Homo sapiens: one gene and its partners. The gene in region 1 interacts genetically with each later gene. Each region holds a gene or a part of one and is shown in the gene's direction. Other genes may lie near its edges.

What was found.
Region 2: changes in CUL5 (region 1) and SEC24C together harm fitness more than expected from each alone (negative genetic interaction), as found in Homo sapiens cells (one large-scale study listed by BioGRID).
Region 3: changes in CUL5 (region 1) and MAN1A1 together harm fitness less than expected from each alone (positive genetic interaction), as found in Homo sapiens cells (one large-scale study listed by BioGRID).
Region 4: changes in CUL5 (region 1) and UBE2J1 together harm fitness less than expected from each alone (positive genetic interaction), as found in Homo sapiens cells (one large-scale study listed by BioGRID).
Region 5: changes in CUL5 (region 1) and FASN together harm fitness more than expected from each alone (negative genetic interaction), as found in Homo sapiens cells (one large-scale study listed by BioGRID).
Region 6: changes in CUL5 (region 1) and SAR1A together harm fitness less than expected from each alone (positive genetic interaction), as found in Homo sapiens cells (one large-scale study listed by BioGRID).
Region 7: changes in CUL5 (region 1) and SLC30A5 together harm fitness more than expected from each alone (negative genetic interaction), as found in Homo sapiens cells (one large-scale study listed by BioGRID).

The regions. Positions count from the first base shown.
Region 1 is NC_000011.10:108,014,902-108,019,467, forward strand, and holds part of CUL5 (cullin-5), read left to right. Parts: intron 1-4,566. UniProt on the Homo sapiens protein: Core component of multiple cullin-5-RING E3 ubiquitin-protein ligase complexes (ECS complexes, also named CRL5 complexes), which mediate the ubiquitination and subsequent proteasomal degradation of target proteins.
Region 2 is NC_000010.11:73,764,526-73,769,091, forward strand, and holds part of SEC24C (protein transport protein Sec24C), read left to right. Parts: intron 1-925; coding exon 926-1,064; intron 1,065-1,274; coding exon 1,275-1,390; intron 1,391-1,560; coding exon 1,561-1,685; intron 1,686-1,824; coding exon 1,825-2,016; intron 2,017-2,234; coding exon 2,235-2,328; intron 2,329-2,528; coding exon 2,529-2,645; intron 2,646-3,311; coding exon 3,312-3,482; intron 3,483-4,284; coding exon 4,285-4,381; intron 4,382-4,481; coding exon 4,482-4,566. UniProt on the Homo sapiens protein: Component of the coat protein complex II (COPII) which promotes the formation of transport vesicles from the endoplasmic reticulum (ER).
Region 3 is NC_000006.12:119,177,696-119,182,261, reverse strand, and holds part of MAN1A1 (mannosyl-oligosaccharide 1,2-alpha-mannosidase IA), read left to right. Parts: intron 1-1,834; coding exon 1,835-1,950; intron 1,951-2,316; coding exon 2,317-2,443; 3' UTR 2,444-4,566. UniProt on the Homo sapiens protein: Involved in the maturation of Asn-linked oligosaccharides. Progressively trim alpha-1,2-linked mannose residues from Man(9)GlcNAc(2) to produce Man(5)GlcNAc(2).
Region 4 is NC_000006.12:89,335,057-89,339,622, reverse strand, and holds part of UBE2J1 (ubiquitin-conjugating enzyme E2 J1), read left to right. Parts: intron 1-1,079; coding exon 1,080-1,164; intron 1,165-1,312; coding exon 1,313-1,418; intron 1,419-4,191; coding exon 4,192-4,321; intron 4,322-4,566. UniProt on the Homo sapiens protein: Catalyzes the covalent attachment of ubiquitin to other proteins. Functions in the selective degradation of misfolded membrane proteins from the endoplasmic reticulum (ERAD) and is essential for cells to recover from ER stress.
Region 5 is NC_000017.11:82,080,773-82,085,338, reverse strand, and holds part of FASN (fatty acid synthase), read left to right. Parts: coding exon 1-101; intron 102-182; coding exon 183-304; intron 305-385; coding exon 386-540; intron 541-622; coding exon 623-826; intron 827-954; coding exon 955-1,105; intron 1,106-1,185; coding exon 1,186-1,364; intron 1,365-1,447; coding exon 1,448-1,567; intron 1,568-1,699; coding exon 1,700-1,822; intron 1,823-1,913; coding exon 1,914-2,137; intron 2,138-2,223; coding exon 2,224-2,425; intron 2,426-2,660; coding exon 2,661-2,812; intron 2,813-2,924; coding exon 2,925-3,016; intron 3,017-3,178; coding exon 3,179-3,330; intron 3,331-3,495; coding exon 3,496-3,738; intron 3,739-3,986; coding exon 3,987-4,175; intron 4,176-4,416; coding exon 4,417-4,566. UniProt on the Homo sapiens protein: Fatty acid synthetase is a multifunctional enzyme that catalyzes the de novo biosynthesis of long-chain saturated fatty acids starting from acetyl-CoA and malonyl-CoA in the presence of NADPH.
Region 6 is NC_000010.11:70,146,789-70,150,151, reverse strand, and holds the end of SAR1A (small COPII coat GTPase SAR1A), read left to right. Parts: 3' UTR 1-2,863; downstream 2,864-3,363. UniProt on the Homo sapiens protein: Small GTPase that cycles between an active GTP-bound and an inactive GDP-bound state and mainly functions in vesicle-mediated endoplasmic reticulum (ER) to Golgi transport.
Region 7 is NC_000005.10:69,120,819-69,125,384, forward strand, and holds part of SLC30A5 (proton-coupled zinc antiporter SLC30A5), read left to right. Parts: intron 1-875; coding exon 876-1,077; intron 1,078-2,380; coding exon 2,381-2,607; intron 2,608-4,566. UniProt on the Homo sapiens protein: Together with SLC30A6 forms a functional proton-coupled zinc ion antiporter mediating zinc entry into the lumen of organelles along the secretory pathway.

The DNA.
Region 1 (4,566 bases):
TTTATTTTTATTTTTGAGACGGGGTCTCACTCTCTTGCCCAGGCTGGAGTGCAGTGGCACGATCTTGGCTCACTGCAACCTCCACCTCCTGGGTTCAAGCAATTCTCCTTCCTCAGCCTCCCGAGTAGTTGGGATTACCGGTGACCACCACCATGCTCGGCTGATTTTTGCATTTTTAGTAGAGATGGGGTTTCACCATGTTGGCCAGGCTAGTGTTGAACTCCTGACCTTAAGTGATCCTCCCACCTCAGCCTCCCAAAGTGCTGGGATTACAGGCATGAGCCATCACAGCTGGCTTATTTTTGATAAGATAGTGAGGGAATGCCTCTGAGGAGATAATAGTTGAGGTAAAACCAGAATGAAGCAAGGGAGCAAGTCATGTACATATTTAGAAGAGTTCCTTGTAGAGGGAACAGCCAGTGTGAAAGCACAGAGTCAGGATCATGCTTGGCAAGGAATATGGATGTGATACGAAGATTTGAATATCATCGGTGAATGTGGTTAAGGTGCATAACCAGAGAATTCTTTTTAATATGTCTAGTTAAACATAAATGAGAACCTTATTAAGAACTTGTCAATTTTTCATTGGGTTGATAGAAATTGCCCTCTTGAAACGTATATCTAAGAGGGACATGGGCCTTAGAGCGGCCTTCCCCTCCTTCAGTGTACTGTCCTAGAGAGATGGTTGCATTCGACACAGCCTAGGGAGGAAACAAATTTCAAGGGTGTCTGTGTTGGTCATGGGTAGGAATGGGAGAGGGAATAGTGGACTAATCAGTAACTGTAAAACTTTGTGATACATGTAAATGGTAGAATCTTTCATGTTCTATGAAAATAAATGATTGAACAATTACCATAATCTGGAGGTGATGTATGTTAATTAAAACTTCTAAAAGGAAGTGGCAGCTCAGGGTAAATTTTGATCAGTCATTTTTCAGTAGATTAGAGGAGGGGAATTTTAGACTGCTGGAAGGTAGAAAGAGGATACTAGGCATCTTTCTAGTAAAAAGAGAGGTTTTGTTTTTGTTTTTGTTTGTTTTGAGAGGAGGTCTCACTCTCACACAAGCTGCAGTGCAGTGGCATGATCATGGCTCACTGCAGTCTTGATCTCCCAGGATCAAGCGATCCTCCCACTTTAGCCTCCTGAGTGGCTGAGACTACAGGCACATACCACCCTAGGTCTGGCTAATTTTTTATAGAGATGGGATCTCACCATATTGCCCAGACTGGTCTCCACTCCTGAGCTCCAGTGATCTTCCTGCGTAGGCCTCCCAAAGTGCTGGGATTACAGGAATGAGCAAAAGAGCTAGTCAGCCAGAGAGGTTTTTCTTTTCTCTTCTCTTCTCTTCTCGTCTTCTCTTCTCTTCTCTTTTCTTTTCTGTTGAGACAGGGTCTCACTCTGTCCCCCAGTCTGGAGTACAGTGGCGCAGTCACAGCTCCCTACAGCCTTGACCTCCTCAGGCTCAGGTAATCCTCCCACCTCATCCTCCCACAGGTGCAACACCAGCATTCCCAGCTCATTTAAAAAAATGTTTAGAGACAGGGTTTTGCCATGTTGTCCAGGCTAGTCTGGAATTCCTGGGCTCAAGCAATCTGCCCTGTCCTTCCAAAGTGCTGGGATTACTGGCGTGAGCTACCACCCCTACTTGAGGTTTCTCTTAATAAATATTTTGCTTAGTGTCCTGGTGAACCCAGTTGTCAGTAAGAGCCATTTGCCTCCTGCCTTGGTTAGTAGGTGGAGGAAATAGATGCCTCATATGCTCTGTAAGGAAAGCAGGGCTGGGTGCAGTAACTCACACCTGTAATCCCAGTGATTTGGGAGGCCAAGGTGAGAGTATTGCTTGAGGCCAGGAGTTTGATACCAGCCTGGGCAACCCCATTTGTACAAAAACAAACAAAAAAAAACAAACAAAAAGCAGGATACAGCTCAGGTTAAAACTTTGGTCAGAGGCTGGATGCAGTGGCTCATGCCCAACACTTTGGAAAGCAGAGGCAGGAGGATCATTTGAGGCCAGGAGTTGGAGACTAGATTGGGCAGCATAGCAAGACCTACCACCTCTACAAAAATAAAAATTAGAAAACATTGGTCAAATCCATGGAGTACATACAAATAATATCAAAGGTAATTGATCTGTGTAGCTGTGGTTTGTTCATTCCATAAAAATCTGAGCATTTATGCTGTACTGGATACCATTTTAAATTTCAGGCTGGGCACAGTGGCTCACACCTGTAATCCAAGCACTTTGGGAGATTGAGGTGGGTGGATTACCTGAGCCCAGGAATTTTAGCCCACCCTGAACAGCATGGTGAAACTCGTCTCTACAAAAAATAAAAAATAAATACCTGGGGGTGGTGGTGTACGGTTTTAGTTCTAGCTACTCAGGAAGCTGAGTTGGGAGGCTTGCTTGAGCCCAGGAGGTTGAGGCTGCAGTGAATTGAGATCGCACCACTGCACTCCAGACTGGGCGACAAAGCAAGACCCTGTCTCAAAAAAAAAAAAAAAAAAAAAGTATCAGTGATACAATAGTGAATATGACAAAGTTCTTAGACTTTGGGGCTTATATCCTGATGGATGAATACTGACACTAAAGACATAAAGAATACACTTGCATAGTTTTTACTGGTAATTAGGGCGGTAGCGAAAACAACGTGATAAGAATGTTCAAGGCCGGATGCGGAGGCTCACGCCTGTAATTGCAGCACTTTGAGAAGCCCAGGTGGGAAGATCGCTTGAGCCCAGGAGTTCAAGACCAGTCTGGGCAACATAGTAAGACCTCATCTCTACAAAAAATTTAATAATTATCCAGGCATGTTAGTGCATGCCTGTAATCTCAGCTACATGGGAGGCTGAGGCAGGAGGATTGCTTGAGCACAGATCAAGGCTGCAGTGAGCAATGTTTATGCTGCTGCACTCTAGCCTGGACGACAGAGTGAGACCCTGTCTCAAAAAAAAAAAGTGTTCGGAAGGTGGAGCCACTATTTTACTCACTTATTTACAACAGAAAATAATTTTTCCCCAAAAAACTGCTTTTGACTATTTTTTGTTGAATGTTCTTTTTCTTCCTCATGTTGACATTTCAGCCAGATCCTATAGCTTTCCTGGGCTTTTCTTAAAAGTCTGGTTATTCCAAATTAAAATTTCAGTCTCATAGCCAATCAGAGTGTCTCTTGTACCATCTCAAGACTTTGTCTCTGGATGTGCAGAGAGGAATGGAGGAAGGGCATTTTTCTTAGGTTGGTTTGGGAGGCCTGAGGTGGCATTGGAGCTGAGACCTGAATGATCTGCATTCTAAGGCAAAGGTCTTGAGGTGCAGTGATGAGCTTGGCCTGTTTGAGGAACACCTTTAAAAGGTTGCTGTGGCTGGAACATAGAATTGCAGTAGTAAGAATTACTGGTATTCAAATATATACAATCAGCCCTCAGTATTCATGAGTTCCATGTCTGTGGATTCAACCAACCAAAGATTAAAAATACTCAGAAAAGGCTGGGGGTGATGGCGCATGCCTATAATCCCAGCACTTTGGGAGGCTGAGGCAGGCGGATCATGTGAGGTCAGGAGTTCAAGACCATCCTGGCCAACATGGTGAAACCCCATCTCTACTAAAAAAAAAAAAATACAAAAATTAGCTGAGTGTGGTGGCACATGCCAGTAGTCCCAGCTACGCAGGAGGCTGAGGCAGGAGAATCACTTGAACCCACGAGGCAGAGGTTGCAGGGAGCCGAGATCACGCCATTGCACTCCAGCCTGGGTGACGGAGTGAGACTGTGTCTTAAAAAAAAAAGAGAGAGAGAAACATCACATATATGCACTTAATGTGGCACCCGCACACATTTATTTTTATTAAGCCACCTCACTTTTGTTGAGATAAGAAAGATTTTATGAATCCCCTATAGATGCAAGTAGTGTACTTGCAATGTAACAATGGTTATGAGCTCAGCCTCTGCAGCCACACTGCTTGGGTTGGCCTCCAGGTTCTGCCATTTGCTAGCTGTGTGGTATTGGGCAAGTTACTTAACATCTCTGTGCCTCAGTTTCTATATCTATAAATAGCAGTGATCTCAAAAAAACCTCAGAAAAAAATTGCGTCTGTATTGAATATGTACAGACCTTTTTTTCTTATAATTCCCTAAACAGTACAGTATAGCAGCTGTTAGCATTTACATTATAGTAGGTATTGTAAGTAATTTAGAGATGGTTTAAAGTGTATGGGAGGATGTGCATGGGTAATAAGCAAATGCTATGCCATTTTCTATCAAGGACTTGAACATGTATGGGTTTTGGTATCCCGATGGGTGGGGGTGGGGGTGGGGTGGGGTGGATCCTGGAATCATTTCCCCACAGATACCAAGGGACAACTGTACAGTAGTTTGATTCTTTTGGTTAGTGGGGATTGGCAAATGGGGTTTTAAAATCACATAACTGGGAGCAATAGTGGCTTCATAAACAGTAAGGGAACCCACACATTCAAATAACTAACCTCATAATTCACATGAATTATCTAAAATACGACAACTGAGTTCCTTTGGTAAAGTTATTAGAGTGCCATTAATTGGATATACAGTCA
Region 2 (4,566 bases), on another chromosome or scaffold:
AAAAAAAAAAAAAAACAAGAGGTAGGGCCAAATTGTAGGGGAGAAGACAGCTGAATGTAGGAACCTCTCGTATCATGGTCATCTCCAGATGATGAGAAGGACATCATTCCATGTTTTCCTGACTGTCCTGTCATCCCAGGTTAGTGCTGTTAGAACAGCATATAAGAGAAAAGGTAGATTAGGATCCAGTGATCCTTCTGTCACCTGTTTTGGGACCTGATCTGTCACCCCAGTACCTGATACCAGCATGAAGAGAGCGAGCCAGGCAGCTGCTCCACCAGGCCTTGGTAGGATACTCATATTCAGCCTTGCTTATCTTACGATAGGGTTCTCTGTTACTAGAAGCCAAAGGCTCAGTTTATATTCTGCTTATCTCTCCGTCTTTCTCTGTGTGTTTGTCTATTTCTATCTGGGTCCCATTGGGGATAGTTGGGCACTGGTCTCTTATGTGTAGGGTGACATTTGCCTGGGGCATCAGTAACTGGCACAGAATCCCAGGGATACGGGAGGAGGTGTTACAGATATTTGGTTAGGGAAGGAGCTGGAATCAAGATTCTTAGAGCAAGAGTGAAGGGCATTAGAGATGGGGCCAGAAAGGAGAATCCTAGATAATCTTGGCTTTCTCCCTCATATGCCCATGGCAGCCCCTAGTCTGATATGGCCGGTTTTGCATTTCCTCTTCTCTTTCAGTGAGAAATGCAGCTCTGGGGGTGGGATGTAGGAAGAGGGAACTATATAATTTTTACTCATAGGGACATTTTCCTGTGATTTGTCTTTACTCCCTTTCATCATTGTGCTCCCTACTCCCTCTGCAGACAGAATATCTGCGCCATGCGCCTTCTTCCTCCGGTTGTTCTTCCTCATCTCCTGGCTGAACCTACTGTGGTTTTCCTTTATGTCTGATCCCTTCCCCTTTGCGCCTTAGGCTTCACCGTATGTTGTGGACCATGGGGAATCTGGCCCTTTGCGCTGCAACCGCTGCAAAGCATACATGTGTCCCTTCATGCAGTTCATTGAAGGAGGGAGGCGTTTCCAGTGCTGTTTTTGCAGCTGTATCAATGATGGTATGTTCATGGAAGCTGGGATTTGGGGGAAGGTCTTGATTGTATCTTCCTTGTTCTCTATTAAATAGTTAGAGAGATGAGGGTCCATCTTTCAGGAGCTGGGGAAGTAGGGCACATGGGAATGAGGGATAGTGGTGTGAGCTCAGCTAGGGCCAGAATACTAAGATTGAAACTGGATCTTCGAGTAACACACTGCCATGCTTCCCACAGTTCCCCCCCAGTATTTTCAGCACCTGGATCATACCGGCAAACGTGTGGATGCTTATGACCGCCCTGAGCTATCCCTGGGCTCTTATGAATTCTTGGCCACTGTAGATTACTGCAAGGTGAGGGAAGGTAGCATGGGAGGAGCAGTGAGTGGAGGATAATGAGACAGCTGAGAATGGCTGTTATCATTTCCCTCACCCCTTTTTTGTCCCTTTTTGATGCTGACTTCTCTATAGTCAACTGGCCTGCTTACCATTCCCCCTCTCCCCAACATTTTCTTCCTCTGCAGAACAATAAGTTCCCCAGCCCTCCTGCCTTTATCTTCATGATTGACGTCTCCTACAATGCCATCAGGACTGGTCTTGTTAGGCTCCTCTGTGAGGAGCTCAAGTCACTGTTAGACTTTCTACCTAGGTGAGAGTTACAGAACTGAGGTGTTTCCTGAGGTTAATGATAGGGTGTCTGGGTTGACTGAAGAAATGTAGCTTGGTGTCATGAAGTTGTGGGTGGTGGAAAAGGTGGCAAGTCTAGGTAACAATGTCACCTTCTACAGGGAGGGTGGGGCAGAAGAGTCAGCAATCCGCGTTGGCTTTGTCACCTACAATAAGGTGCTCCACTTCTATAATGTGAAGAGCTCATTGGCCCAGCCACAGATGATGGTTGTGTCTGATGTGGCTGACATGTTTGTGCCACTGCTGGATGGCTTCCTGGTCAACGTCAATGAGTCTCGGGCAGTTATCACCAGGTAAGAGCCAGATTGTGGAGGTAAAGGTTGGGGGTGGCATGGGTACCACCATAGAAGGTCATGGAGTTGAACAGAGGTATTGGACAGTAGATGGAAAGGGGTTGTGGCCCAGGAGTTGTCAGATTCTAGAGGCTTGATGACTCTTCAGGGAATCGAGAACTGAGGTATCTGGAATCTGTATAGCAATTTTGGTTGTTTTCCGTCACCTATCTCTTTAGCTTATTGGATCAGATTCCAGAAATGTTTGCAGACACAAGGGAAACAGAGACAGTATTTGTACCAGTTATCCAGGCTGGAATGGAGGCTCTGAAGGTAAGGCTGGAGTATCGGGCAACCTCCTCTAACTCCATTTTCCTCTGACCATCTTATCCCCTGGGATACAACCTCTCTTTCTTCAGTAGTGGGTGACTGTCCAGTGTGTTAGACTGTCTGACATAGCTGGTGCTTAATAAATGACAAGGGAAGAGATGGATGAATAAAGAATAAACAAGTAGTCCTCTCTTTTTTCCTAGGCTGCTGAGTGTGCAGGGAAGCTCTTTCTATTCCATACATCCCTGCCCATTGCAGAGGCCCCAGGGAAACTGAAGAACAGAGATGACAGGAAGCTGATCAATACAGACAAGGAGAAGGTGTGGGACTGGAAAATGGGGGAGGGGAAGGATTTTTCATTACAGAGGAAGTGGGGACTCTACTTTCTTGATGGTGGCTAGGACCAGACACTCCACCCTTTCAAATACCATATCTGTGACTGCCAACCTCCACTGCTGCCATACTTCTCTACTCCATCTGATGCCAAAGCTGTTGGTAGACTCTTGTATTTATTTATTTTTTAAAGAAGAACTTTTGGCCGGGCATGATGGCTCATGCCTGTAATCCGAGCGCTTTGGGAGGCCAAGGCGGGCAGATTTTTGAGGCCAGAAGTTTGAGACCAGCCTGACTAACATGGCAAAACCCCGTCTCTACTAAAAATACAAAAATTAGCCAGGTGTGGTGGCACACACCTGTAATCCCAGCTACTTGGGAGTCTGAGGCAGGAGAATCGCTTGAACCTGGGAGGCAGAGGTTGCAGTGAGCTGAGATCATGCCACTCTATGCCAGCCTGGGTGACAGAGTGAGACCCTGTCTCAAAAAAATAAAAATAATATAAAAGAAAATTTTTTACTATTGGAAAATCCTTGGAAGTAGATCTGAAGTCTTCCATGAATTTGAATATCCCATGCTAGATATACAGTTTTCAAATAGGGCGGAGCTGAGATATTTGAACATTTTCTTCTCCCCATTTTCTTTCCCCCTAGACTCTGTTCCAGCCTCAGACAGGTGCCTATCAGACCCTGGCCAAAGAGTGTGTGGCCCAAGGCTGCTGTGTAGATCTCTTTCTCTTCCCTAACCAGTATGTGGATGTGGCCACACTCTCTGTTGTGCCCCAGCTCACTGGTGGCTCTGTCTACAAATATGCTTCCTTTCAGGTATGGTGTGGGATTTGGGGCAGCAGGTGGCAGCAGGGCTGGGAATATCTGCTTATATATGCAGTGGCTGACTCATTAATAGAAATAGTGTTGGGGCCAGGCACGGTGCCTCACACCTGTAATCCTAGCACTTTGGGAGGCTGAGGCAGGCAGATCACCTGAGGTCAGGAGTTCAAGACCAGCCTGGCCAACATGGCAAAACCCCATCTCTACGAAAAATACAAAAATTAGTCGGGTGTGGTGGCGGGCGCCTGTAATCCCAGCTACTCAGGAAGCTAAGAATCCCTTGAACCCGGGAGGTGGAGGTTGTGGTGAGCCGAGATTGCGCCACTGCACTCCAGCCAGAGCGACAGAGTAAGACTCCGTCTCCAAAAAAGAAGAAATAGTGTTGGAAGAGAAGACTGCATAGTCTGAAGAAGTGAGCCCGAGAATGTGGCAGTTAGGAACATGGGCCTTGGAATCAGTCCTGCATTGATATTCTGGCCCCACCACTTACTAGCTACATGACCTAGGATAAATTTCTTAAGTACTTCCTCTTTTGTTCCTTCATCTGCAAAATGGTGTTAAAATACTTAAGTAGGATTTGTCAACAGAATTAAATAATTATATGTAAAGCACTCTGTGTGGTACCTGGCATGCAGTCTAAGTGTTTAAAAGCTATTATTGTCATCATCATTATCATCCTCACTGTTATGATGATGATAATTAGGTGGCCTTGTAGAGTGGAAGGGGTACAGGGAGATTGTCTGCACGATGAGCTATGTCTAGTCAGTGACATGACTCTGGACCTGGGGGCCTGCAGGTGGAGAACGACCAGGAGCGGTTCCTGAGTGACCTGCGTCGTGATGTCCAGAAGGTTGTTGGCTTTGATGCTGTGATGCGGGTCCGGACAAGCACTGGTCAGTCCTGATTGAAGAGCAGGTTGGGGGGCTAAATATGGAAGGGAGGCATGTGGCACTTGTCATACTTTTTGCCCTGACCCTGTCCATGTGGCCTCAGGTATCCGTGCTGTAGATTTCTTTGGAGCTTTCTACATGAGCAACACGACAGATGTGGAGCTGGCTGGGCTAGATGGGGACAAAAC
Region 3 (4,566 bases), on another chromosome or scaffold:
AAAATATATAAGGAACTTACAATTCAGTAGCAGAAAAACAACCTGATTTCAAAATAGGCAAAGGACCTGAAGAGACATTTTTCCAAAGAAGACGTACAGATGGCCAGTAGTGAAAAGATGCTCAACATCACAAATCATCAGGGAAATGCAGATTAGAACCACAGTGAGATATCACCTCATACCTTTTTAAATGGCTATTATCAAAAATTCAAGAGGTAATCAGTCTTAGTGAGGATGCAGAATAAAGGGAACCTTTGTACACTGTTGGTGGCAATGAAAATTGATATAGCCATTATGGAAAACAGTATGGAGGTTTCTCAAAAAATTAAAAATAGAGCTACCATATGATCCAGCAATCCTAATTCTTGGTGTATATCCACAGAAGATGATGTGTATCCACATCAGAAGATGATGTATATCCACCACAGAAGATGGTGTATATCCACAGAAGTAGTGTATATCAAAACATCACACTGTACACCTTCCAGTATATACTATTTGTATTTGTCATACATCGGTAAAGCTGGAAAAAGGTTAAAGAAAAATAGAAACAAACAAAAGAAAGAAAGTGGGCTCTGAAAGGGAAAAAGAAAACACAAACAGCAGCCATCTTAGTGGTAACCAACAAAGTGGAAGGCAGGTTGGTTTAGGTTGTTACCTAAATGTTCATCCTCACACTGCCCAACCCATCTGTTTTCCAAATATTCATTAAATTCAGACAACTACAGAAATGTAGGATCATTTCTCTCTAGAGAGTTGTCAGTGGAGTCATCCCATCTTCTTCCATACTAGACTGAAAAAAAAAAAAAACATGTATTTTAGGAATAGATCCCAGCCACATGTCTCTCACTGTCTTTCATTTTCTTCTTTTAGCTCTGTTACCAATATCACTGATGAGTACCCTACAATCAATTTTCAGAAACTCAGATACTCTGATTATAGAAGCAGCTGATTTTGTTCCAGTACGGTTTCTCAACCAGTGGTTTATGATCCCAGTTGACATTAGCAGTCTCTCCAAACTAGGGGTCAGCAAACTCTTTCTGTTAAGGGCCAGACAATATCAGGCTTGGGGGACAGCCAGCTAGTCTCTTTTGCATCTACTTAGCTCTGTCATTGTAGTACAAAAACAGCCACAGACAATATTTAAACAACATGGCTGTGGTTTAATAAAAGTTTATTTACAAAAATAAACAGTGGACTGGATTTAGCCTATAGTTCATACTTTGCTAAACCCTGCTCCAGACCATAGGGGGAATTGGTAAAAATCAGTGAAAAATTTTTCCAAAACTAAAGGCAGAAGTGTTTCAAATTAGGTAAGATATGTGGTCCATATGTTCTATGACTTCATTTTTAATTTACATTTAGTTTATGGTTTTAATTTTTTTTTACCTAAAACTCTATAACAAACTTTCATTTAATTTGAATCCAATTTGTAAAAAATAAATTTTGACTGGGCACAGTGGCTCATGGCTGTAATCCCAACTCTTTGGGAGGCCGAGGCAAGCAGATCGCTTGAGCCCAGGAGTTTGAGACAACCATGGGCAACATGGCAAAACCCTATCTCTACAAAAAATACAAAAAATTAGCCAGGCATGGTGGCGAATGCCTGTGGTCCCAGCTACTTGGGAGGCTGAGGCAGGAGAATCACCTGAGCCCAAGAGGTAGAAGCTGCAGTGACCCATGATGGTGCCACTGTACTCCGCCCAGGCAACAGAGTGAGGCCCTGTCTCAAAAAAAAAAAATGTTTTATCTGAACTTGACAATCTAATAATAAAAATTAGTGACAATCAGTTTACTGAAATGTGACTTTTTTTTTTCCTCCTCTATAATTTAGGCCTTGGAAAACCATTGCAGAGTGAATGGAGGCTATTCAGGCCTAAGGGATGTTTACCTTCTTCATGAGAGTTATGATGATGTGCAGCAGAGTTTCTTCCTGGCAGAGACATTGAAGTAGGTGAAAATTATTCTAAAACCATGTGGCTAAGGTACCTGAACAGATCTTTGTAGATGTCTTTATCATGAACACATTCAAGTAATATCAAGTATGCCTGATTCAGAATATCAGGCATGGCTATAATTGCAGGTATATTCTCAATAACTAGGTTCAGTGACTTGGTACTGCTAACACCAAAGCACTGAGTAGCTGCTTTACCCCATGTTAATGAGTATAACCCCTCAGGGTTTTGATATATTTGACTCTTGTCCATGTTTCTTGGTAAGATGAATGCAGACATTGATGTGGTTTTTGCTGTGTGTTTGTGGTTTCACTGCCTGCCTAGTGTCTTGGGCCTCATATACTTATGTTTCTCTCACCAGATATTTGTACCTAATATTTTCTGACGACGATCTTCTTCCACTGGAGCATTGGATCTTCAATAGCGAGGCACATCTTCTCCCTATCCTCCCTAAAGATAAAAAGGAAGTTGAAATCAGAGAGGAATAAAAAGACATTTTATATTTTATTCTGCTCCATTCCCTTCACTGTATACCTTAATAATTCCTTTTCTGGTAATCAGGCACATGATGAACTTTGATTAGTAGGTCTGTGATTAAGTTCTTAAATTGTTTTGCAGTCTTTTATGTTTATTATCATAGGTATAGGTGGACCTAAATTCCTTATCATATCCTTTATTAATTCAGCCAGTGTATCCACCAGTTTTTTGTTTATGTTTTTAAGTAACCTATTATCTCTGGATTTCATGAAGGTGTAATATCGTTTTTGTTAAACTGAATAGAATTGTATAGCGATGACCTCTTAATTATAATTTGATTTGACTGCAAAACTTTTTCCTCCTCTAAGAGGAGATGATGTCTGCTTTAAGCTGTAATGTTTTGCCATGTTGCAAAAAGCCATAATAATAAGTATAAAAAAGCTTTTTCCTTTACAATTTCATGTTAATCTGGTTTGTCTGTCCACCAGAGACAGATCTTCTGTGACAGCCTCCTTATGCAGGTCTATCATTATTTGATAGAATGTCTTCTAAAATACTTCACTCACATTGTAATTCAAATTAGAAAGTCATTCCAAAAGGATCATGTCATGTTGACCTCATTTCATCGGAACTGCAGTATATTTTTGTTGGTTAATTATATTAGTGTTTTCTATTTTGTAAATGTGTCCTTTAATTTTACTTTAAATGCCCTGTGTCATTTCTGGATTATATACTAGTTAATTTCTTCCATTCCCCACTACACAGAGAGGTGAGCTTTCAAATTTTGCAGAGCTCTGCTATCACTGAATTACATTTATCTGAAGAAAATAGTACAACTTAATGGATTAGCTTTTGGGTTTAACTGAATATATGAAGAAATTGGGTCTGTCTAAAGAGAGGGTATTTCATATGGCTTTTAGTTCACTTGTTTGTATTTCATCTTGATTTTTTTCTTTGGAAAATAAAGCATTCTATTTGGTTCAGATTTCTCAGATTTGAAAAAGGCTCTATCTCAGATGTAGTAAATTATTTCCTTTCAGTTTGTGAAAGCAGGATTTGACTCTGAAAGAAGCTTTGCCAATTTTACTTATTCGTGATCAATCAAGGAAAATCTAATAAATTTTAGGCCAAATAAGAATATAGCATATTTAGTATGGTTATAGTCAACACAGAGATCACAACTTAGAAGAAATATAAAGAAATGGCCACTCCCCATCCCCCACAGTCCTGGAGTAAATCAAAATCAATATATGATTCTTTTAAACATTAAGTTTGAAATAGGAATGGTTTTCTCAAGAATAGATTTGGTGTGATACCTTGTGTTTGCTTACATTGGCCCACTATATATACATATATATTTATGTAGATATACTTCCATGAAAGGGCTAATACGATGCATATACTGAAGGGCAAGGACTTTGACCATGTCAATTTTCAGCCGAGAATGGTCAGAAAGATCAGTACAACCCCATGGATTAGGCTGAAACATATGAAATTGCTGCATTTGTAGTTTAAAAACTGTCAGCAGTTTCATATGGTTCCACCTAATATTATTGAAGACAATTATTTTCTTAGCTATCAATAGGCTTAATAGTTTTAGTTATTTTAGCTTTTGAAAGTGTTTTAAAAGATTTCCTTTATCGGACAGGACCATCTTTATGACCTGCTTTCTGTTTTTCAATATCATACATTGGTGTATGTCAAAGAATAAATTAGTAAAATTAGTAAATGAAAAAGACTCTTCCGTACATCATTATTTCCATGCTAATGTGTGTCTGTGATCCAGAATAACTTCTCCCACTCATATCTTCAGTTCACCTAATGAAATGAATGGATAGCAAGAGCCCTTTGTTCCCAGGACTTTAAGGCAAAATATTAAAAATTATTGCCAAAATTAAGAATATAATGTTTGTATAAATGTCCTTGAATTTGCCATTTAAATTAACTCATTTTCTTTTCACTTTGATTTGAAAGCTGATAAGTATTTCTGCAGCAGATAGAATATTAAAATCAGGTTGTGTGTACACACTGCACTATGAGGTACCTTGGTGTCCTGGTGTGAATAGACAAGAAGCTGTACTATATGTTGCTCTCTCAGTGGCAACAATGAAGTTTTTGCAATTCTAGAACTTGG
Region 4 (4,566 bases), on another chromosome or scaffold:
TCCCCCTCCCCTCTCCTTCCCCCCTCTCCTTCCCCCTTCCCCTCCCCACCCCTCTTCCCTCCCCATCCCTTCCCCCCTCCCCTCCCCACTTCCCTCCCTTCCCCCCTCCCCTCCCCTCTCTCCTCCCCCATCCCCTCTCCTCCCCCCTCCCCCCCTCTCCTCCCCTCCTCTCCTCTTTTTTTTTCTTTTCTTGGGGACAGGGTCTCACACTGTCACCCAGGCTGGCATGCAGCAATGCAGTCATAGTTCACTGTGGCCTTGAACTCCTGGGCTCAAGTAATCTTCCTGTCTTAGCCTCCCAAGTAGGTAGGACTAGAGGCACATGCCACCACTCCTGGCTAATTTTCTTTCTTTTCTTTTTTTGGTGACAGTGTCTCACTAAGTTGCTCAAGCTGGCCTTGAACTCCTGGCCTCAAGTGATCCTCCTGCCTCAGTCTCCCAGAGTGCTAGGATTACAGGCGTGAGCCACTTCGCTGGCCAGTAAAACTTTACATGTTAATTATTTAGATTTCACTTGTGCAACTCAGTTTCAAAAGGTGCTGTAAAACACCTTCTAAAAACAGCTTTTATTATTCAGCATCCAACAAGTATTTTTGGAGTCTATAAGGACAAAAAATCTGTGTCCCATGAGAGGTTACATTTAAAAAAAAATCTTTTTGGCCGGGCGCGGTGGCTCATGCCTGTAATCCCAGCACTTTGGGAGGCCAAGGTGGGCAGATCACAAGGTCAGGATATCGAGACCATCCTGGCTAACACGGTGAAACCCCGTCTCTACTAAAAATACAAAACATTAGCCAGGCCTGGTGGCAGGCGCCTGTAGTTCCAGCTACTTGGGAGGCTGAGGCAGGAGAATGGCGTGAACCCGGGAGGTGGATCTTGCAGTGAGCTGATATCACACCACTGCACTCCAGCCTGGGTGACAGAGCGAGACTCCATCTCAAAAAAAAAAAAAAAAAAAAAAAAAACAAACTTTTTAAGATAATCTCTAAAATTATTATATATAAATAGTATATTTTTACAGAAAGTATAAACATTAAGCACATGTATTTAATTTTCTAAATGCATTGTTTATTCCTCAGGCTAATGGTCGATTTGAAGTGGGCAAGAAAATCTGTTTGAGCATCTCAGGCCATCATCCTGAAACTTGGCAGCCTTCGTGGAGTAGTAAGTGTTAATTTATAGTGAATATAAATCTCATAACTTCAGTCAATTCATAGTTATGAAGTATAATACTCTGATTTTTTCTTTTTCCAGAATAAACCCAGTTGCTTTTACAAAGCAATTTAGATTGATATTTACTTTTTTATTTCAGTAAGGACAGCATTATTAGCCATCATTGGGTTTATGCCAACAAAAGGAGAGGGAGCCATAGGTTCTCTAGATTACACTCCTGAGGAAAGAAGAGCACTTGCCAAAAAGTAAGTTTTGCATTTCATTCTTCTTGAGGTCTGAATAGTATTCAGGGTAATGGCTATTAGGAGGTAGGGCCTACCTCTTACTATGTGACTTATTTTCTGAGTGACTGTAGCTACAGGATCTTATCTCAGTTTTGCTCTTTTAGGAATTCAGTTGTAATAATTTCCTTGGAGTGACCAGAATCTAAGTAATTTATTTAATGCTATCTAGTCTTAAAAAGTAGTTGATACTATTTCACTATTTTTAAAAAATTCAGTGGGAGATATATTCTCCTGGAAAACAATACCAGTCATTTGTTTCCACTATGGCATTATAGATGGAAAAGAACCAGAGCAATTATTTGTAGCTTTCCACAAGATTACAAACCTCTTGAGGGCCAAGAGGTAATCCACTTTATCCATCTTTGCATCTAGCTCATAGCAAGTGCTTAATAAATGATCTGGAATAAAGCAAAAGAGATTTTATCAAGTTGTGATTGCCCAGTGGCAATCACAAACAGAGAAGTGATGCCTTCTCTGTTTTTTTCAGGTGCAGGTGCACTTTTGTCTATATGACCAAGATCAGTCCTTCCATTCAGAGTAGCCCCTCTTTGAGTAGTGCTGATACCTAATTTTTGATGTTGATAATTTTTCTGCTCTGGAGTCTGCTGCCTACCACCCTTCAGACATATTATGTTAATTAAATTATATCATATTTTACCCTAGCACACCCCAGAGTAGGCCCTCTACAGATATTTGCTAAATCAGTTAGATTTTAGCATCTGGAAGATTTGGTAGACTTCTTGGTCTTATAAGCAACTTTTCTTTTTAAACCTTATTTCCAAACTATGGGTATGTACTTTATTTATACAGCTCTTCATAGATTACACTATGTACTTTGAATACATAGTATTTGTTTTCATTCGATTTACTACGTTGGTTTTTTTATCTTGATGCCTTTATCCAGTTGATTTCATGTGCGAGGTAAAAAAAAAAAAAAAAGAACTGGAGTTCTTGTTCTTCTAGGCTTCTCACTGTATATTCTAGATTCTCAGTCTATAATAGAAACCTTTTAAAAAATGATTTTGGGCCGGGCATGGTGGCTCACACTTGTAATCCCAGCTCTTTGGCAGGCCAAGACAGGTGGATTGCTTGAGTTCAGGAGTTCGAGACCAGCCTGGGTAAAATGGCGAAACTGCAGCTCTACAAAAAAATACAAAAATTAGCTGGGCGTGGTGGCACGTGCCTGTAGTCTCAGCTACTTAGAGACTGAGGTGGAAGGATTGCTTGACCTGGGGAGGTTGAGACTGCAGTGAGCCATGATTGTGCCACTGCACTCAAGCCTGTGGGACAGAGTTGAGACCTTGTCTCAAAAAAAAAAAACAAAGATTTTTGCATTCAACCGTGGTAGCATGCTACCATTGTGGATAAACTAATACATTCAAAATAAACACTCCCCTTAAGGTTCATCTGACTCAGTTAAAAGTGAATACATTTTGAAGCAAATAATTTGTATATAACCAATTCTCAAAGGTGTGTGGTCAACAGTGCCACTTCTGGTAAAACAAGAAATACTCATCAATAAATACTAAATTAGGCTGGGCACAGTGGCTCATGCTTGTAATCCCAGGACTTTGGGAAGCTGAGGCAGGAGGATCGCTTGAGCCTAGGAGTTCTGGACCAATCTGGATAACACAGGGAGACACTGTCTCTACAAAAAAAAAAATAATAATAAAATGAAATAAAAAAAAAAAATAAAATAAAATAAAAATTAGCGGGGTGTGGTGGCACACACCTGTGGTCCTAGCTACTTGGGAGGCTGAAGTGGGAAGATCACTGGGGTCTGGGAGGTTGAGGCTGCAGCAAGCCATGATTGCACCACTGCATTCCAGCCTGGGTGATAGAACGAGGAGACCCTGTCTCAAACAAACAAACAAACAAACAGAAAAACTAAATTATTGCTACTTTTACATATATTTTGTTTATATGATATTTCATAATTTTAAATAGCATGTTCTTCAAGACCTAAGGTTTTTTAATAGAACTAGAAGTACTATGAAAAACAATTTTTTAGAAGGAAGTTTAACAGTGTAACAATATATGTTTTATATATGATGCATGTTTACTTTCAGTCATTCATATCCTCAGAGGACTCTTGTAAACTTCAAGGAAGTTTTGACTATATCTGGAATACAAAGGGAAAAATGGAAAAACAAATATATTTTAGAAAATAATCTAGTTAACAGACATATCCTGAGTCTCTACCTAATGTATAATCAGCAATAAATTAAGTCTTTGGATTTTCTGCAAGTTCTCCCAAGTCTTTCAAGTTATACTGCTATTTGTGAGGGGTTTTTTTTTCCCTAGAAATATCTGTAAATTCTATGTTTAATTAGTTTCTTTACTGCTTTATATATATTTCTGCTAACAGATAATTTGATCTTGTTAAAGGACTTTTTTCACAGCCTTAAAATAGGTTTGTTATATGTGATCTCAAGGACAGTATAATAGACAATTTTCTCATTGTATAGATGTAAAACTTATTTTTCTTTAGATAGTTTATTGGAAAAAATAGCATCTGAGCCCTGGATTTTTTTAAAGCCAGCCTAACATTTACTTGTCTCAGGACTATAATCATTACATTAATTTTCTAATTCATAGCATGTGGATAAATGTGATGTGGAATTTTCCAGTGTTCCTTTCTTTTAAGTTTAATGATCGAGCATTTGAGTGTCTCAGTGAGAGGGAATTAAACATTTAACTATTTATTTTCATTTAAAAAATCTTTTTCTACTAGATCACAAGATTTCTGTTGTGAAGGATGTGGCTCTGCCATGAAGGATGTCCTGTTGCCTTTAAAATCTGGAAGCGATTCAAGCCAAGCTGACCAAGAAGCCAAAGAACTGGCTAGGCAAATAAGCTTTAAGGTACTATAAATTCTTAAATAAATGCTAATCTTGCAACCCTTTTGTTTACTGCTGGATTCTGCATAGAAAGGAAAGCGATGCAGTTCTATTACAATATGACATTTGCCAATGTTTTTCTTTTTTCATATTTTTATATTTTTAATTTCTGTGGTTACATAGTAGGTGTATATATGTATAGGGTACATGAAATGTTTTAATACTGGCATGGAATGTTTTTCTTATTACAAAATTCCTAACTACATTCA
Region 5 (4,566 bases), on another chromosome or scaffold:
ACGGCTCCACGCTCTTCCTGTGCCGCCGGCCCACCCCGCAGGACAGCCCCATCTTCCTGCCGGTGGACGATACCAGCTTCCGCTGGGTGGAGTCTCTGAAGGTCAGGCCCTGCCCCACCTCCAGGCCCCACCCCACCTCCCAACTTGCCGAGTGTGGCCTGACCCTCCCCGACCCGCTGTAGGGCATCCTGGCTGACGAAGACTCTTCCCGGCCTGTGTGGCTGAAGGCCATCAACTGTGCCACCTCGGGCGTGGTGGGCTTGGTGAACTGTCTCCGCCGAGAGCCCGGCGGGAACCGCCTCCGGTAGGAGCACGGCCCCTCACCACTTCCCCTTCCCCACCAGCCTCCCCATCCCCAGCCTGAGCTCCCCGCCTCTGCCCCCAGGTGTGTGCTGCTCTCCAACCTCAGCAGCACCTCCCACGTCCCGGAGGTGGACCCGGGCTCCGCAGAACTGCAGAAGGTGTTGCAGGGAGACCTGGTGATGAACGTCTACCGCGACGGGGCCTGGGGGGCTTTCCGCCACTTCCTGCTGGAGGAGGGTGAGCCCCCGACACTGCCCTGCCCCTCCCGGGAGACTGCACCCGAAGGCCCCGCAGCAGCCCCACCTCCCTGTTTCCCTAGACAAGCCTGAGGAGCCGACGGCACATGCCTTTGTGAGCACCCTCACCCGGGGGGACCTGTCCTCCATCCGCTGGGTCTGCTCCTCGCTGCGCCATGCCCAGCCCACCTGCCCTGGCGCCCAGCTCTGCACGGTCTACTACGCCTCCCTCAACTTCCGCGACATCATGCTGGCCACTGGCAAGCTGTCCCCTGATGCCATCCCAGGTATGGGTGGCATGGGGCCGTGGGAGTGGACTGGGCCGGGGAGCAGAGACCCCAGCAGCTAGGACCTGCCTGGGAGCCCCTCGGGAGGGAAGGGCAGGCGGTGAGGGGCTCAGTGCCGTCTCCCCCAGGGAAGTGGACCTCCCAGGACAGCCTGCTAGGTATGGAGTTCTCGGGCCGAGACGCCAGCGGCAAGCGTGTGATGGGACTGGTGCCTGCCAAGGGCCTGGCCACCTCTGTCCTGCTGTCACCGGACTTCCTCTGGGATGTGCCTTCCAACTGGTGAGTGTGTCGAGGGTGTGAGCCTGGGCCCCACGTGGATGGCGGCCAGGCCTGTGCTGACCCACCTGCTGCATCCCCAGGACGCTGGAGGAGGCGGCCTCGGTGCCTGTCGTCTACAGCACGGCCTACTACGCGCTGGTGGTGCGTGGGCGGGTGCGCCCCGGGGAGACGCTGCTCATCCACTCGGGCTCGGGCGGCGTGGGCCAGGCCGCCATCGCCATCGCCCTCAGTCTGGGCTGCCGCGTCTTCACCACCGTGGGTAAGGCCCCGCCCCCGGTGCCTCCCGCTGCCCTCCTGGCCCCGCCGCCCTGGCTCACCAGCCGCGCTTCCTCTCTTCACCAGGGTCGGCTGAGAAGCGGGCGTACCTCCAGGCCAGGTTCCCCCAGCTCGACAGCACCAGCTTCGCCAACTCCCGGGACACATCCTTCGAGCAGCATGTGCTGTGGCACACGGGCGGGAAGGGTGAGTGGCCCCCACAGCCCCCACCTGCCTCCTGCCTAGCCTCCGGCCCAGGGAGAAGCAGGGTCTGGCCCTCTGGACTGTGGTGGCTGGGCTTGCAGTGGGTGTGATTGTCTGGCCCCTCTGGCCCCCTAGGCGTTGACCTGGTCTTGAACTCCTTGGCGGAAGAGAAGCTGCAGGCCAGCGTGAGGTGCTTGGCTACGCACGGTCGCTTCCTGGAAATTGGCAAATTCGACCTTTCTCAGAACCACCCGCTCGGTGAGGCCGGCAGCGCCTGGGCGGGGGTGGGCATGGATGGGTGTGGGTGGACCTGTGGAAGGCCCTGGGTGAGCACGGCCCCTGCCCGCAGGCATGGCTATCTTCCTGAAGAACGTGACATTCCACGGGGTCCTACTGGATGCGTTCTTCAACGAGAGCAGTGCTGACTGGCGGGAGGTGTGGGCGCTTGTGCAGGCCGGCATCCGGGATGGGGTGGTACGGCCCCTCAAGTGCACGGTGTTCCATGGGGCCCAGGTGGAGGACGCCTTCCGCTACATGGCCCAAGGGAAGCACATTGGCAAAGTCGTCGTGCAGGTGAGGGGAGGAGTCCCGGCGCCTCGGGCACCCCAGGCTCTGGTCCCCAGGCAGTGCCTGAGCCGGTGGGTGCTGCTTGGACGCAGGTGCTTGCGGAGGAGCCGGAGGCAGTGCTGAAGGGGGCCAAACCCAAGCTGATGTCGGCCATCTCCAAGACCTTCTGCCCGGCCCACAAGAGCTACATCATCGCTGGTGGTCTGGGTGGCTTCGGCCTGGAGTTGGCGCAGTGGCTGATACAGCGTGGGGTGCAGAAGCTCGTGTTGACTTCTCGCTCCGGGATCCGGACAGGTGAGTCGGCAGGGGTGCTTGTGGACCAGCCTGGGCCAGGCACAGCCCCGGGCCCCTGAGCCCTTCTCTGCAGCCCACCATTGTGGGCTGTCACGGTGCCTGGGGTCTGTCCCCCTCCATCTTGTGGGGGGCTTGCTGGATGGGGCTCTGCGGCTGCTCCCCACTTCCCCAGCCCGGCGTGTAGGGAAGAGACCGTACCCTGGCCCAGTCCAGCCCACAGTCCTGTGTCCCGCAGGCTACCAGGCCAAGCAGGTCCGCCGGTGGAGGCGCCAGGGCGTACAGGTGCAGGTGTCCACCAGCAACATCAGCTCACTGGAGGGGGCCCGGGGCCTCATTGCCGAGGCGGCGCAGCTTGGGCCCGTGGGCGGCGTCTTCAACCTGGCCGTGGTGAGGGAAGGCCCCAAATGGGGCCCTCAAAAGCCCCAAGACCAAGGGGGGGACCCTGGGTGGACGGGTGAGGCCCTGGAGCTGCAGGGAGTGCTGAGGATGCCTCCCCCAGGTCTTGAGAGATGGCTTGCTGGAGAACCAGACCCCAGAGTTCTTCCAGGACGTCTGCAAGCCCAAGTACAGCGGCACCCTGAACCTGGACAGGTGGGTACCGCACAGCCCTGCTCCCGCCTCTGCCGGGCTCTGGGCTCAGGGCCGTGGGAGCCAAGGTGGTTTGTTGACAGCCCTCTCTGGCGTTTCCTGGGGATGGGACGTTGGGGGCTCCTGGGGATGCTGGCCAATGGGGAGTGACACGCGTGCCCACAGGGTGACCCGAGAGGCGTGCCCTGAGCTGGACTACTTTGTGGTCTTCTCCTCTGTGAGCTGCGGGCGTGGCAATGCGGGACAGAGCAACTACGGCTTTGCCAATTCCGCCATGGAGCGTATCTGTGAGAAACGCCGGCACGAAGGCCTCCCAGGTGGGCCCCACCCTCTCCCCTCGACCCTGCCCACCCTGCCCTCTCCCAGTGGCCACTCCCCACCCCCACCTTCTCCCCGCAGCCCTGCCCACCCCACCCTCTCCCAGTGGCCACTCCCCACCCCGACCTCCCCGCAGCTCTGCCCACCTGCCCCCTCCCCCACAGGCCTGGCCGTGCAGTGGGGCGCCATCGGCGACGTGGGCATTTTGGTGGAGACGATGAGCACCAACGACACGATCGTCAGTGGCACGCTGCCCCAGCGCATGGCGTCCTGCCTGGAGGTGCTGGACCTCTTCCTGAACCAGCCCCACATGGTCCTGAGCAGCTTTGTGCTGGCTGAGAAGGCTGCGGCCTATAGGGACAGGGACAGCCAGCGGGACCTGGTGGAGGCCGTGGCACACATCCTGGGTGAGCACTCCCAGTAGGAGCCGCGCCAGGTGTTTCCCCTGCTGGCATCAGGGTCTTGGGACATAGCAGTCGTGCCCCTGTGCGCCTCAGTTTCCCCATCTGCAGAGCCAGGGTGCGGGCGCAGGTGTCACTGTGGTGGTGGTGCTTTGGGAGATGCACAGCCCACGCACCCCTGGGTGTCAGCCCTGCCGCATACAGGCCGTCCCCATGCCCCCTCTGGAGTTGCCGACCCGGCGCATCCCTTCCAGGCATCCGCGACTTGGCTGCTGTCAACCTGGACAGCTCACTGGCGGACCTGGGCCTGGACTCGCTCATGAGCGTGGAGGTGCGCCAGACGCTGGAGCGTGAGCTCAACCTGGTGCTGTCCGTGCGCGAGGTGCGGCAACTCACGCTCCGGAAACTGCAGGAGCTGTCCTCAAAGGCGGATGAGGCCAGCGGTGCGTGTGGGTGGCCAGGCGGGAGTGGGGTCCCCGGGCCTCCCCAGCCCTTCCTCCTTGTTGTCTGGACCGTGTCCCGGCAGGCATACCGCCCTTCGTCACGGGTGCCATTCTGAGCGTTCCCACCCCGACTCCCACCTGACGTAGCACCGTGGGGACCTGCGTGCGTGTCTGTGTGTCCTTGCGTGGGTGCCAGGGCTCTGCACCCAGACCAGCCTGGCATCTGCCCCTGTCTTCACAGAGCTGGCATGCCCCACGCCCAAGGAGGATGGTCTGGCCCAGCAGCAGACTCAGCTGAACCTGCGCTCCCTGCTGGTGAACCCGGAGGGCCCCACCCTGATGCGGCTCAACTCCGTGCAGAGCTCGGAGCGGCCCCTGTTCCTGGTGCACC
Region 6 (3,363 bases), on another chromosome or scaffold:
AACAATGCCGTTTATTTGGGGAGGCAACCAAAAGTTCCCTGCATAGAGGAAGAGACATTTAGGGTGCGTGTGAGATACTTGAATTTTGCCACCAGGAGGGGGAAAAAGGCTGGGGTACTAGAAGTAATAGATTTAGTACTACTTGAGAGATTTGGAACATGCTGTGGACCCAGGGTTGTTGGTCATCTCTGCAACAGGATGGGGATGGCAGATGTTTGAGCAAAATCTATATTAACATGCTAGCAAGGACTAGTTCTAGTTTAGCTGTGTTTCACTCATTTTACACAGAATTAGAATTGGCCAGGTGTGGTGGCTCACGCTGTAATCCTAGCACTTTGGGAGGCTGAGGTGGGTGGATTGTCTGAGCTCAGGAGTTTGAGACCAGCCTGGGGAACAGGGTGAAACCCCATCACTACTAAAATACAAAAAAATTAGCTGGGCATTGTGGTACATGGAGTAGCTCCCAGCTACTCTGGAGGCTGAGGCGGAGAATCGCTTGAACTAGGAGGTGGAGATTGAAGTGAGCCGAGATCATGCCACTGTACTCCTGCCTGGGTGACAGAGCAAGACTCTCTCTAGCTCAAAAAAAAAAAAAAAAAAAAAATCAATTAAATGCTACATTTGGCAAAATGAGAAAGAAAGAATTTCCTTTACTAGGCTTGTAGGAAGACTGCTTTTACAAAAACCCAAATGAGATCATAAAACTAAAGTACTGGGACAAACAGTGGGAAACAGTGCAATGGGTTCTTTTCAACCAAGTATTAAAGTATTGGAGATATTGCCGGGCGCGGTGGCTCACGTCTGTAATCCTAGCGCTTTGGGAGGCCAAGGCGGGCGGGTCATGAGGTCAGGAGTTCAAGGCCAGCCTGACCAACATGGCAGAGCTCCGTCTCTACTAAAAATACAAAAATTAGCCAGGCACGGTGGGACGCACCTTTAATCCCAGCTACTCAGGAGGCTGAAGCAGGAGAATCGCTTGAATCGGGGAAGCGGAGGTTGCAGTGAGCCGAGATCGCGCCACTGCACTCCAGCCTGGGTGACTCCCATCTCAAAAAAAATAAAAAGTACTGGAGGTGTCCTGTTGTCCTTGTTACTGTGAAAGGATGCCATGGGTTGTATGGGCAAATGAGTTGTTTTGTTTGAGGCAGAGTGGAAAATAAGATTAGGCTCAGTCCATGAGCCTAGCACTCAACAGATCTTACTTTGGCGTTCTGGCTGTGACTTGGGACTTCTTTTTACCATGGTCTGCTGTAAACACAGAAAAACCCAATGCCTAACAGTTCATGCTGGAGTCTTGAGCGTTGAGGGAGAATCACTGGACTCGAGAGAGAAAGTTTGTTTGTTTGTTTGTTTGTTTGTTTTTTGAGTTGGTCTCACTCTGTCGCCCAGGCTGGAGTGCAGTGGTATGAACATAGGTCACTGCAGCCTTGACCTCCTGGGCTTAAGTGATCCTCCCATCTCAGCCTCCCAAGTAGCTTGGGACCACAGGGTTGCACCACCGTGCTCAGCTAGTTTTCAAAATTTTTGTAGAGTTAAGGTCTCATCATGTTGCCCAGGCTGGTCTCAAACTCCTGGGCTCAGGAAATTCTCCTACCTCAGCCTCCCAACGTGCTGGGATTCCAAGTGTGAGCCCCTGTGCTCCACCAAGAGAAAAACTCTTTGATTGCTAGGAAGTTGGGATAAAGAAATTGTGCTGTGATCAAGCCACCTTCTGTGTCATAGAACCAAAAGAAGACCGCCTGCTATGGCAAGATGGCCTAATTTTATTCCTGCCTCATACTATCATGGATAATCGTTTTCCTTTCTCTAGCAGGTTTGTGTCACTGGGAGTACTGGGAGCATTATCCTGTGTTGTGCTGGGGTTATACCAAGCAGTGTTAACTTTATTTAAAGAATTCAGGCAGAAAGATTAGAGAATTTAAGTAGCAATTGTATATGGTAAGCAATACAGTAACCTTAATAAAAATTAATGATGGCCGGGTACGGTGGCTCACGCCTGTAATCCCAGCACTTTGGGAGGCCGAGGCGGGCGGATCACAAGGTCAGGAGATCGAGACCATCCTGGCTAACACGGTGAAACCCCGTCTCTACTAAAAATACAAAAAATTAGCTGGGCGTGGTGGCAGGCGCCTGTAGTCCCAGCGACTGGGGAGGCTGAGGCAGGAGAATAGCGTGAACCCAGGAGGCGGAGTTTGCAGTGAGCGGAGATCGCACCATTGCACTCCAGCCTGGGCGACAGAGCGAGACTCCGTCTCAAAAAAATAAATAAATAAATAAAAAATAATGTGTATTTTATCAATTCAGTGATAAAGCAGACCTTTGTAAACTGTCTAGCTTGTGGTGACTGATTGAGGGTATCATGAAGCTCCGCGCCCCCCCACTCCCCGACATACTCGTTCATCCTCCTCTGTCCTAAAGCGTACTTCTTTGGAAAAGTAGAGCAGTTTATGTTAGTGTACACTAGAGATGGTAAACTATGCCTTGTGGGTCAAATCGGGCCTGCTGCCTGTGTTTGTATGGCCTGTGAGCAAAGAAAGGTTTTTACATATTTAAATGGTTGGAAAAAATATTTAAAGAATGCTATTTTTGGACACAAAAAATTGTATGAAATTAAAATTTCAATGTCTGTATCTTTTTATTGGGACACAGCCACCGCCATTCCTTTAGCTTTTGTATGCAACAGCTGCAGAGTTGACTATTTGAGACAAGTTGTATGGTCCCCCCAAACTGGAACTGTTTCCATTCTGGCCTTCTACAGAAAGTATTTGGACCCTGGCCTAGATAAATCCTGGCTGGTGGTTATGTTATGTGAAATGTGCACACTGTAAAATATAGGCCTGTATGATTAAAATTTTTGATTTCAGCTACTGTTCATAGTCGATTTAAAGGGCAATTTAATTTACAGCAAATCCAGTTTCTCGGAGATTTGTGTTGGGGCTTTGGCAGCAAAAAAAAATCCTAGGAGTAATCTTGAGAGTTCCATGCCCCCTAGTGGATTGCTATAGGGTTTACTTTTAAATTTTCAAAACACTGAATTGGCCAAGGATTTCCTTGGTCCATATTATCCCAAGGGTCAGAGGCTGAAGGTCGCCTAGACCTGGGCAGATGCTCACAGGTACTGTCGTGGCCTGGGCAAATCTAGGCACGTCAGCGCTCATTTCTATTCCCTTTCCCACATTCCAGCAAACGAGACTAGGCTTGAAGGGACCCACCCTCCTCTCCTCTGATTCCTCGTGACGCCGCACTCCTCTTACTCTCCCCGGGGCTCATCCGGGGGAATGGGGCAGATTATGTCCCACCGGTTGGACAAACTAACGAGGGCGGGGAAAGGAAAAAAAAAATCAGAATAGGAAGCCAATCAGA
Region 7 (4,566 bases), on another chromosome or scaffold:
TCCTTTTATAAAACAAATGGATTGCTTTAAATTGTAGATGTAGGCAAATTAACACCCTGAGCTACTACTATTCAAGATCATTTTGTAAGAGCAGATAATCAAGGATAAGTAACTTTGTTTATCCTTTGGAGTATTATTGTGGCACCATTAAATTAAAGTAATTTCATTCACTTTGTTAAGAAAAAAATGAGAGGCCAGGCATAGTGGCTCATGCCTGTAATCCCATAATCCCAACACTTTTGGAGGCCAAGGTGAGAAGATCGCTTGAGCCCAGGAGTTTGAGGACAGCCTGGGCAACATAGACCCTGTCTCTACCAAAGAAAAAAATTTGTTTTTAATTTAAATAAATGCGAGATTACTATTGTATGTTTCCTTTTTATTATACTTGTTTTACTTTGGAAAATTTTACTGTGTTTAAGACATAATAAGACCATATTTGGAATCTGCTCATTAATAAATTATAATTGTTGGCATATAAACTGTTCAAATTTACCTAGCAATATAAAGATTTCAGGTACAGTGTATACTTGCCCTAGTAAGCAGTACTTTCAAACTCTTCAATAAACAAAACAAAACTTTGCATCATTTATTTATACATAAACCATAAACCAAGTACATACCATTCTTAATTGAAATAAGTCCAAATTCCTCTACTTACCAATTCTGCTTGATATTTGAAAGTTAAAATGTTTCTTCTAAAATGTTCTAAAATTCACATTTTTAAAATTTTGGACTTACTGAAACTTAGTAAGGTTTTACTGTGAATACTTTCAAAACTGTAAACAGAAAAACATATATAGCTATATAATAACTTTTAAATAACAAGTCTATTTTTAAATTACTAATTTAAAGGTTTTTTTTCTCCCTTTTGCTAGCCAGTCTCAGTTGGAGGGCTGATAGTAAACCTTATTGGTATCTGTGCCTTTAGCCATGCCCATAGCCATGCCCATGGAGCTTCTCAAGGAAGCTGTCACTCATCTGATCACAGCCATTCACACCATATGCATGGACACAGTGACCATGGGCATGGTCACAGCCACGGATCTGCGGGTGGAGGCATGAATGCTAACATGAGGGGTGAGTCCTTGCAAAATATTATCCTACTTTTCAACTGTGTTCTAAATCAACCCTCTGTGTTTATTTGTATTAAGTTTTGGGCTTCTGGTATGATATGATTTTTAAAAAGCAATCTGTGACTAAAAGAAAGGTCTGAAGCTATCACTATAGAAAATATTCTTACCTGAATACACATAAAATTAAATATTATTCAGCCTTTAAAAAGAGGGACATTCTGGCTGGGAGCATGGTGGTTCACGCCTGTTAATCCCAGCAATTTGGGAGGCTGAGGCGGGAGTACCACCTGAGGACAGGAGTTCAAGACCAGCCTGGCCAATATGGTGAAACCCTGTGCCTACTAAAAATACAAAAATTAGCCGGACATGGTGGCAGGTGCTTGTAATCCCAGCTACTCAGGAGGCCGAGGCAGAAGAATCGCTTACAGGTGTGAGCCACCATGCCTGGCCGTCACAGAAAATTTTTTAAAAAGAAAATGAGGCTGGGAACAGTGGCTCACATCTGTAATCCTAGCACTTTGGGAGGCCAAGGTGGGTGGATCACCTGAGGTCAGGAGTTCGAGACCAGTCTCTCCAACATGGTGAAACCCTGTCTCTACTAAAAATACATAACTTAGCCAGGTGTGGTGGCAGGCGCCTGTAGTCTCAGCTACTCAGGAGGCTGAGACACGAGAATCACTTGAACCTGGGAGATGGAGGTTGCAGTGAGCCAAGATTACGCCACTTTACTCCAGCCTGGGCAACAGAGTGAGACTCTATCCAAAACAAAAAGAAAATGAAAATATATTTGTTCTTAAATGTTAGTTTTTAAATGATTATAATTATATAGTCCTTTTCATAGTGACAGCTGAATAGATATTAGTTGCAAGGTAAACACAGTGTGCTATTATGAACCTTCATTACAAAAAGGAAATTCTTACTCCTTTTTTAGAAATTTTTATTGCACTATAAAAAAAATGGAGGAAGTACTAATCATTTATTTTGCTGAATTGTTTATTCTGATTGCTTAATATAAGTAATGTGGGTAATGTCAAAACTTGCCTCAAGTATGATTTTTGGGAAGCCTTTCCAGACAAAGTACACCATAAAATTTGGCACGCTGTGTCATGAGTGCCTATGTCCTTATATTTTTACCACTGTATTCTGAATTCCTTGAGGGCAGTGACCATGTTTTAGGCATTTTGAAGTACTAGCCAGTAGCAGAGTATGTGGTGCACAGTAGGTATCCAGTAATATTAGTAGAATGTATTAAAAAACTAAATTAGATGTGCCTTAATTTTTAATGTCCTTATATATTTTATTTGTAGGTGTATTTCTACATGTTTTGGCAGATACACTTGGCAGCATTGGTGTGATCGTATCCACAGTTCTTATAGAGCAGTTTGGATGGTTCATCGCTGACCCACTCTGTTCTCTTTTTATTGCTATATTAATATTTCTCAGTGTTGTTCCACTGATTAAAGATGCCTGCCAGGTTCTACTCCTGAGATTGCCACCAGAATATGAAAAAGAACTACATATTGCTTTAGAAAAGGTACTGTATGTAATTTCTTCACTACTTTCTTCCTTGAAAATCACATTTTTGAAGTCTTTGCTGGAAGTAAAACAGACAACCAAATAAATAATAAAACAAAACGAGGCCAAAAAAGAAATATAAAGTAGCATTTAAAATTTAATAAGTTGACCTAACAAGAAATATGCAAGATATAAATGAGAAAAATACAGTTTTACTTAAAGGATATAAAACAGGGACCGAATAGATGGATGAGATTTTCTTGGATGAGAAGACTCTTTATTATAATGATGTTGATTTTATTTTATTTAGATTTCAATTTAGTTGCCTTCATTGGATATTTTTGTTTATGGTTTGGGATGTTCTAAAATTATTTGGAACTTACTTGGAAGAGTTAGCGCTTGAGAATAAGAAAACATACATAAACTTACAGAATTAATTAATAGGATCCTACTTTGCAATTATAAAGTAGCAGAATTAAGTGACAAAACTAACAGTTTAGATCGAGACCATCCTGGCTAACAAGGTGAAACCCCGTCTCTACTAAAAATACAAAAAATTAGCCGGGCGTGGTGGCGGGCACCTGTAGTCCCAGCTACTCGGGAGGCTGAGGCAGGAGAATGGCGTGAACCCGGGAGGCAGAGCTTGCAGTGAGCCGAGACCACGCCACTACACTTCAGCCTGGGTGACAGAGCGAGACTCCACCTCAAAAAAAAAAAAAAAAAACCTAACAGTTTGGTCCTTGCACAAGAATAAAGACATAAATCAACTTTTAAAAAAATAATAAGTTCCCATTCTTGTGACCTGGGATTGTTTCCTGGACAGCACAAAAAAAAAAATAGTAACAATAATAATAGGTTGTCTGTAAAAGAAGAAATAATAAAAAATGAAAATAAATGAAGAATTATGGTATGTAATGTAAAAGAAGAAATAAAAATAGGTTGTCCAGAAACAGACCCAGGAGTTTATGGAATTCAGTATATAGCAAAGATGGTATTTTAGATCACTGGGGAGAAATAGTTGACCTAAATAACCAGCTTTTGGTTAATTACTTCTTTACTTTGTGGGGAAAAAAAAGCTATATCTCTATACCATATTATATAAAAATACATTTCCAGTGGATTAAATATGTAAATGACAAAAAAATTATGAAACTACTAAATAGAGAAATATTTTTGTTTGTTTGTTTTTTGAGACAGTCTTGCTCTGTTGCCAGGCTGGAGTGGAGGGGCGCAATCCCAGCTCACTGCAACCTCCACCTCCCGGGTTCAAGCGATTCTCCTGCCTCAGCCTCCCAAGTTGCTGGGATTACAGGCCTACCACACCCAGCTAATTTTTGTATTTTAGTAGAGATGGGGTTTCGCCATGTTGGCCAGGCTGGTCTTGAACTCCTGACCTCAAGCTATCCACCCACCTTGGCCTCCCAAAGTGCTGGGATTACAGGTGTGAGCCACTGCACCCCGCCAGAAAAATATGTTTATAATCACAAAGATAGGGAAAGACTTTTTAATATACTTGAAACCAGAGGCCAAAAAGGGAGGATAAAATTTACAAATTTGACCAGTTGAAAATTGCCAGTTGGTGGAAGATTTCATTAACAAGTATAAAACATAAAAGGCAGACCAGGAAAAAACATTTGCAGCACATATAAACAGGCAAAGGTTTACTGTCCATAATTCTTTAAGTCAAGAAAAAGACAATCTTAGCTGTGCATGGTGGCTCATGCCTGTAATCCAGCACTTTGGGAGGCTGAGGTGAGCAGATCACCTGAGGCCAGGAGTTCAAGGTCAGCCTGGCCAACATGGTGAAAGTCCATCTCTACTAAAAATACAAAAATTAGGGTCGGGCACGGTGGCTCACGCCTGTAATCCCAGCACTTTGGGAGGCTGAGGCAGGCAGATCACGAGGTCAGGTGATTGAGACCATCCTGGCTAACATGATGAAACCCCATCTCTACTAAAAATATAAAAAATTAGCCGG